2 linked regions of the Homo sapiens genome follow. The protein of the gene in region 2 purifies or fractionates together with the protein of the main gene of each other region. This does not show direct contact. Each region holds a gene or a part of one and is shown on either strand. Other genes may lie near its edges.

Region 1 (3,749 bases), on a different chromosome or scaffold from region 2:
TGAGAAATTTAAAATTATAAGGTGTTTCACATACAGTTTTTTTTTTCCAAGTGGTTTTATGTGTGATATGCTTTGTTATTTTTCCTCCTTTTAAGGCCCTGGAAATTTGAACATATAGGCATTGGGCTTCTGTCTCTACTGCTGAGAGATGACCGAGTGTTGCCTCTTCGTGCCATACGGTTTTTTGTTGAGAATCTCAACCATGATGCAATTGTAGTTCGAAAGGTACATACCTTGTTTTAGCTACAGTCTTGGGTTTGAGAATATGTACGTGACCTGAAGTCTTTAAATTCTTCACAAGCAATACACACTTGGTTAATAAATATCTTGAAGTGTATTGATTTGAAATCTCCCCCTGTTGATTCAGAGATGATAATGATTCATCTAACAAATGAACATGTTTAGGCACTCTGTTTAAAAGACTGGGGATATAGCAGGAAATAAGTTTATAGGCTAATGGGAAAGATTTAACAATTAGAAAATTAGGTGTGCAGTGTGTTTCAGGAGGGGCAAGAAACTCGAGGGTATAGCTTTTTACTCTCCAAGTGTTAGAGGTGAGGTGGGGGTTGGGGAGATGGCCTAAGCTGAAGCATTGGAGAAAGACCTTTAAAAATACCCTGAGGCTGGGCAGGGCTTGGTGGCTCATGCCTGTAATCCCAGCACTTTGGGAGGCTGAGGCAGGTGGATCACCTGAGGTCAGGAGTTCAAGACCAGCCTGACCAACATGGAGAAACCCTGTCTCTACTAGAAGTACAAAATTAGCTGGGCATGGTGGCACACGCCTGTAATCCCACCTACTTGGGAGGCTGAGGCAGTAGAATCGCTTGAACCCGGGAGGGGGAGGTTGCAGTGAGCTGAGATTGTGCCATTGCACTACAGCCTGGGCAACAAGAGTGAAAACTCTGTCAAAAAAAAAAAAAAAAAAAACCCTGAGGCTAAGATTTGAAGAATGAGCAGGTATTGGTTTAACAAAGAAGGGGTCAAAGTTTTCTAGGCAGAGAGACTAGCATGTGTCAAGACTGTAGAGTAAGAACTGCCTATGATTCATTCTAAGTCAGATTTAGCACTCACATGGATGTACTGCCAGATGTCGATAGGCGAGGTGTTTTTTTAAAGAAACAGAATCCTATTTCTGCTTTGAGTAAAGCAGACAACCAGTTAAGTGATTTAAACTTTTTTTTATGAATGTGTACCTTTTTCCTTTTCTAGATGGCTATCTCAGCTGTTGCTGGTATCCTTAAACAGCTAAAAAGAACCCACAAAAAGCTGACCATTAACCCCTGTGAAATCAGTGAGTACTACCAGAAGTAATTAATAGTGCTTTCCAATAAAACTCAGAAAATTTTCTTGACATGTATAAATTCTAGTTCTTGACCTCAAATATTGTTCTATGGATATTAACACAAAATATAAATAATATTATGAAGGAAACAGTTGACTTAGTAAAAGCTAGTGATAACTATTTACAAAAATAGATTGACTCTTTCTGCCTTCATATTTATCTCACCTACTAAGCAATTATACTAATTATTTTATCAACTGTATTTCAAAGACTTAAATTGCTGTTATTAATTTGTTAAATGTTTCTCTTTGGGTGGTGGGATTAGGGACAAGGTGAATTTTCTTCCTCATACCTTATTGTATTACCAGAATTTTTCAGAAGAAAAAACCATTTTTTTCTGGTCTCCAATCCAGGATTAAAACATTGCATTTAAATTGTATGGTATCTTTAGTTTCCTTTAATGCAATGTTTAATCCTGGATTGGATTATAGTCCAGAAGAAAATGTTTTAATTTTTTTCATATAAAGTACATTCAGTGGGACAACTGTCAAAATTTGAGTAAAGTCTGTTGATGAAATAATTTTACTGTATTAATGAAAGCTTTTTTGAGAATTGTATTTTGATTATTTGAGATGATGTCTACAGTTTATACTCATAGTTTAGATAAGTATGTGTGGAGAGAGAGAGAATATCAAAGTATGCATGGTAAAATGTCAAAATTTGGGTGTCTCAGTAAAAGATGTGGGAATTTTTTGAGCTCTGTAAGTCTGAAATTATTATTTCAAATCTAAATAGTTTAAACAAAATTAATCCTTTTAATTTTGGTAAAAGGAATGAAGTGTGTTTCATACTTGATCTCTCCCCCAAAATAACTGATTCAACACAATTTAGTAGATAATGCCATCTACTCTGTTTTGAAATGTGCCTCCAATTGCTCATATATATGTTATCTTAATGTTATTTTTGTAGTGTTGTTTTGTGAAGACAAAGTTATGCTGGTACTGTTGATTGAAATTTGGTAATAATTGTTGGGCGAATATTTTTAAATTCATCAAATGTGATTGTCTTTTCCTTAGGTGGATGCCCTAAACCCACCCAAATTATTGCTGGTGATAGGCCTGATAATCATTGGTTGCATTATGACAGCAAAACTATACCAAGAACTAAAAAAGAATGGGAGTCAAGTTGCTTTGTGGAAAAAACTCACTGGGGATACTACACCTGGCCAAAGTAAGTAACTTACTGTGCACCTTATCATTAAATGCCTTTGATATAACTGCTTTATCATATTTTGGTTTCTGGGGAGGTTCAGAGGCACTTGAAGGTTCTTTTATCTTTCCCCTTCCCTAGTCCTCTCTTTCTTTTGCTCCTGCCAATGCTATGCCTCATTCCTGCCTCTTTCCTTGTGCAAAAACCCTTAGCCTTTCTGAATCCCATGGTTATATGGCTAAGGAGGTTATTAATAGCTGCTCTAAATTATATTCCTACCTATTAATAATACATATGCCTAAACCAGCCCAGAGAAATACATATTTTTCTCTCCTTATTTACTCCATTTGTCATTAGGACACAGTGATCTGATAGATTTTTAAGGCCTAGACTGTTACTGCTGTACTCATCTCCCCAAACTTAGCATCTAGTTAGAGTTCATTAAAAGTGCCTTCTAATGCTTTCTATCCATGAAGCTCTAATATTTTTTTCTATGCGTATGATAAATATGAACTCTTACTATATAGGAATATGGTTGTTTATGCTGGTGTGGAAGAGCAGCCTAAGCTTGGCAGAAGCAGGGAGGATATGACAGAGGTAAGCATTCCATTTCACCATGGTTCAAATGCATCTTGTTTTGGGCCACTGATTTATCTCAACCTCACTTCAGTTCTTCTTCTTCTTTTTTTTCTTAATACAATTTGTGTTTTTCTGTATAGCACTGCATAAATATTGGTGACTATGTAATCCATTCTCCTCAACCCCTTCATACTAGTGCCAGTTGACATAGATGTTGATGTATCTAAGACTGAGTTACTACCCCATTCAGCCCTCCGTTGGCTACTGCTTTATGTAATTTGCTGCTCATTTCTTGTATCAGTTCTGATACAAGCGTTTTGAAGGAAAAGTTAATGACTGATTTTTAGTTTTCTATTGCATATAAATTATGGGATCTCCGTAAATGCATGTTGGTAGATTTCAGTTAAAACTCCTTAAACTTCATTTAATTTACTTCACTTTGAAAGTTGACTTGGCTGGGAGCCATGGCACATGCCTGTAATCCCAACACTTTGGAAGTCTGAGGCAGGTAGATCACTTGAGCCCAGGAGTTTGAGACCATCCTGAGCAACATGGCAAAACCTTGTCTCTACAAAAAATACAAAAATCAGCTGGGCGTAGTGGTGCACACCTGTAGTCCCAGCTACTTGGGAGGCTAAGGTGGGAAAATTACCCGACCCGAGGAAGGCAAGACTGCAAT
Region 2 (3,749 bases):
ATTTTAAACAGAGCCTCTCTTCACATTTATTAATTCCTGGGAGGAATGAGGGAGGCTTCTCCAGCCCCCCAGAGACCCCGGCCTTGTGCTGCAACAGGAGGGGAGGGAGCCAGTCCAGAATCCCCGGCACTTCTGAGGACACCAACAGCACCCTGGGCCCGCGGCTGCATCAGCTTTCTAGACAACGGGAGAAAAGAGAAATGGTGGAGGAGGGGAAATCCTATGCCCTCCTCCTCGCGGAAATCAAGGCCGACCTCCCTGACGCCCCCCCGGAAGGAAGCGCGTGGTCGGCTGCCAGCCGAGACCCCCATCTGCGCCTCCAGCTGCAGGGCCTTTGCTGGGCGGTTCCTCGCCCGCAATTCCCCCACGAGCCCTGGGGAGACCCAGCGCTAACCAGGGGTGCCCAAGGGAGGAGCCGGGAGAGGCCCTCCTGGAGGTGGGCACAGCCCAGGCAAACATCAGCAGACGGAACCAGCACCCGGGACCCAGGGAAACGTCACCTGCCACCAGGAGCTCCACAGGGTCGCTGAGCTCCGATTCGAAGGTGTGGGGCACCCAGGAGCGGTAGCGGCACCTGTAGTTGCCGGCGTGCTGGGGCCCCACGAAGATCAGCTCGAGGTTCGCCGCGGCCCCGGGGGTGCGGACCGTCTTCACGGCCTTCGTCTCGCCCTCGCGCAGCAGCTCGAAGGTGACGTCGGGGATGGGTCCCTCGCAGCGCAGGACGGCATCTCGGCCCGCCAGGACCGCCCCACTCCACGTCGCCCGGAGCTGAGGCCTGGGAGGGGGTCCTGGGCGGAGCGGGCGGGTGGTCGGGCCAGGCCACGCCCCAGGCCACGCCCCAGGCCACACCCCAGGCCACACCCCAGGCCGCGCCCGCGCCTGCGCCTCAGCCCCGGCTTCATCTTCCCTGTCTTGTTCCTGGGCGCAGAGGGCTCCTCCGGCGCCGCCGAGCTGCGCCCGCTGCCTTCACACCCCGGACATCCGCGCCACACGTGAGTGTCCCCGCACCCCTCCCCCAGGACCGTGGAAGTCCCAGATTCGGGCCTGCTCTGGGGCTTCTGGGGTCCCCAGCCTCGGTCACTCTGACGGGTGAAGGGAAGAAGAAATGATGGAGAAAACGGTGCTCCTTCATGGAGGGACCAAAAAAGGACATACAATCTATGTCAATAGATGAGGGTTTTCCCTCCATAAGTTTAACTTTAAAAGTGTATTTAAGGTGCCGGGCGCAGTGGCTCACACCTGTAATCTCAGCACTTTGAGAGGCCGAGGCAGGCGGATTGCCTGAGCTCAGGAGTTCCAGACCAGCCTGGGTAACACGGTGAAACCCCGTCTCTACTAAAATACAAAAAATTAGCCGGGCGTGGCAGCGTGCGCCTGTAATCCCAGCTACTCGGGAGGTGGAGGCAGGAAAATTGCTTGAACCTGGGAGGCAGAGGTTTCAGTGAGCCAAGATTGCGCCACTGCACTCCAGCCCGGGTGACAGAGTGACACTCCGTCTCAAAAACAAACAAACAAAACAAAACTGTAAGGAATCAAATGTTACAAAATCCTGGAAGATTTTGGTAATGCTGTTGATAATTTCAGGGAAATTAATGAAGTACATGTAAGTGCTTGATTTAAATGTGTATTTTATTCAATAGTTTGAGTATCTTGCCATGGAAGATACTAGCCCAGCCTAGCAGAAAAGTGCAATATGTATAATATACTTTCGCATTTTAAAAGTTATATTCCCTATCCATTTTGAAATGCTAGCCAAACTACATGAAGTTATTTGCAATTAATTGTAAGCTAATCAGGAATTTTGAAAGCTTGATTGGATTAACAAACTATAATGTTGAAATTTGGTAAAATCATAATGTTAATTTTTACTGTGAAACGTTTTCTTGTAAGATAGATATACACATCCTAGTTTAATTTTGTGTCTTAGTGTGGATTTACAAATTTACTACAGTTATTCTGAGCCCAGGAACCCAATCAGATTTCAGGCCAGTTTGATACTGGCTGTTCTTAATTCTAACAGGAGAGTAGGACATCATACTAAATGTTATGTCAGTGGGACTGTGTTGTCTTTGGAGCTTAGTAAATTAATCATTTTCTTCAGACTTTAAGGAGAGTGATAAATAAAATTTGGAGTCATAGGATATAGATGTACAATTTAAAGATTAAACATTTTTTTTTTTTTTGAGATGGAGTTTTGCTCTTGTTGCCCAGGCTGGAATGCAGTGGCATGACCTGGACTCACTGCAAACTCCACCTCCCGGGTTAAAGCAATTCTCCTGCCTCAGCCTCCCAAGTGGCTGGGATTACAGGCATGTGCCACCACAGCTGGCTAATTTTGTATTTTTAGTAGAGACAGGGTTTCTCCATGTTGGCCAGGCTGCTCTTGAACTCCTGATTTTGTGATCCACCCGCCTTGGCCTCCCAAAGTGCTGTGATTACAGGCGTGAGCCACCTTGCCTGGCCAAGATTAAACATTTTTCATCAATTGTGGATGGTGGCTTATAACACTGCAAGAATAGGCTGGGCATGGTGACTCACAAGTGTAATCCCAGCACTTTGGGAGGCAGAGGCGGGCAGATCACAAGGTCAGGAGGTCAAGACCAGCCCAGCCAACATAGCAAAACCCGGTCTCTACTAAAAATACGAAAATTAGGTGGGCATGGTGGCATGCGCCTCTAATACCAGCTACTCAGGAGGCTGAGGCAGGAGAACTGCCTGAACCCAGAAGGCGAAAGTTGCAGTGAGCTGAGACTGCACCACTGCACTCCGGCCTGCAAGAATAAAAGTAAGTTATCCAAAAAAAAAACAAAAAGGAGAAGAAAAGGGAGGAATGAAGGAGAGAGATGGGGTTGGGGGGCAGAGATGAGAGAGAGAGAAAGAAGAAAAAAGAAGAAAGAAAAGAGAGAAAGAAGGAAGGAAGAAAGAAAGAAGGAAAGAGAAAGAAAGAAAGAGGAAGGAAGGCAGGAAAGAAAAGAAAGAAAGTGAAAGAAAAGAGAAAACGGTGCTCCCAGCAAAGGGTACGACCTCAAGATCTGGAGGTCAGACCTGTGCCCTCACGCTCTGCTGGGCTCTGAGTCCTGGAGACGTCGATGAGGAAATCAGAGGGACAAACAGAGCTGGGGACGGCGGGGATGGGGAGAAGGACACATCAGCCGTGCGCCTGCGGGACCGGGGCCGGGGCGGGGGGTCCAGTATGACGACTGACATGGCCAGTAATAAAACAAGGCAGCCACAGAGCTGCAGGGATCTGAACAAGAAAACCTGGGGCCAGCCTCCCTGCTGCCGACCACCACGCTACACGTGACCTACGGGCTTGCGTCCGTGGGAAATAAGCCGAAATTCCAGGCGTCCCCAGACCCTCGACCACCGATCGCCTGCTCCCCGCCGGGGTAGGCGATGGGGGCTGAACCAAGGCCCAGAGCGCCGCCGTCGGACGCCCAAGGAAAGAGGGGAAAGACAGGAGGCCCCGAGGGGCACTGAACCCGCGCCCGCCCTCGCTGGTGCCCCGCCAGCTCACCGTCCACGTGCAGCTCCAAGCGCTCGCTGGGCGCGGAGCCCCCGAAAGGCGGCTTCAGGTCCACGTAGACGCAGCTGTAGTTGGCGGAGTCAGCCACGGAAATGTTGTGCAGCTCGAAGAGCGCCTCGGTCCCAGCGGGGCTCTGGAAACGGTGCACGCGGCGCCCGCCCCTGTCCTCGCGCACCAGGGCGAAGCGCGCGCCCTCCAGGGGCGCCAGGCACCGCAGCCGCAA

The links. The genes of interacting proteins can lie anywhere in the genome.
Region 1: the proteins of A1BG (region 2) and PSME4 purify together in Homo sapiens (affinity purification with mass spectrometry; 2 studies listed by BioGRID and IntAct, with this or other methods). This does not show direct contact.

The regions. Positions count from the first base shown.
Region 1 is NC_000002.12:53,894,346-53,898,094, reverse strand, and holds part of PSME4 (proteasome activator complex subunit 4), read left to right. Parts: intron 1-95; coding exon 96-225; intron 226-1,209; coding exon 1,210-1,291; intron 1,292-2,358; coding exon 2,359-2,512; intron 2,513-3,018; coding exon 3,019-3,088; intron 3,089-3,749. UniProt on the Homo sapiens protein: Associated component of the proteasome that specifically recognizes acetylated histones and promotes ATP- and ubiquitin-independent degradation of core histones during spermatogenesis and DNA damage response.
Region 2 is NC_000019.10:58,346,853-58,350,601, forward strand, and holds part of A1BG (alpha-1B-glycoprotein precursor), read right to left. Parts: coding exon 3,518-3,749; intron 789-3,517; coding exon 501-788; intron 178-500; coding exon 170-177; 3' UTR 1-169.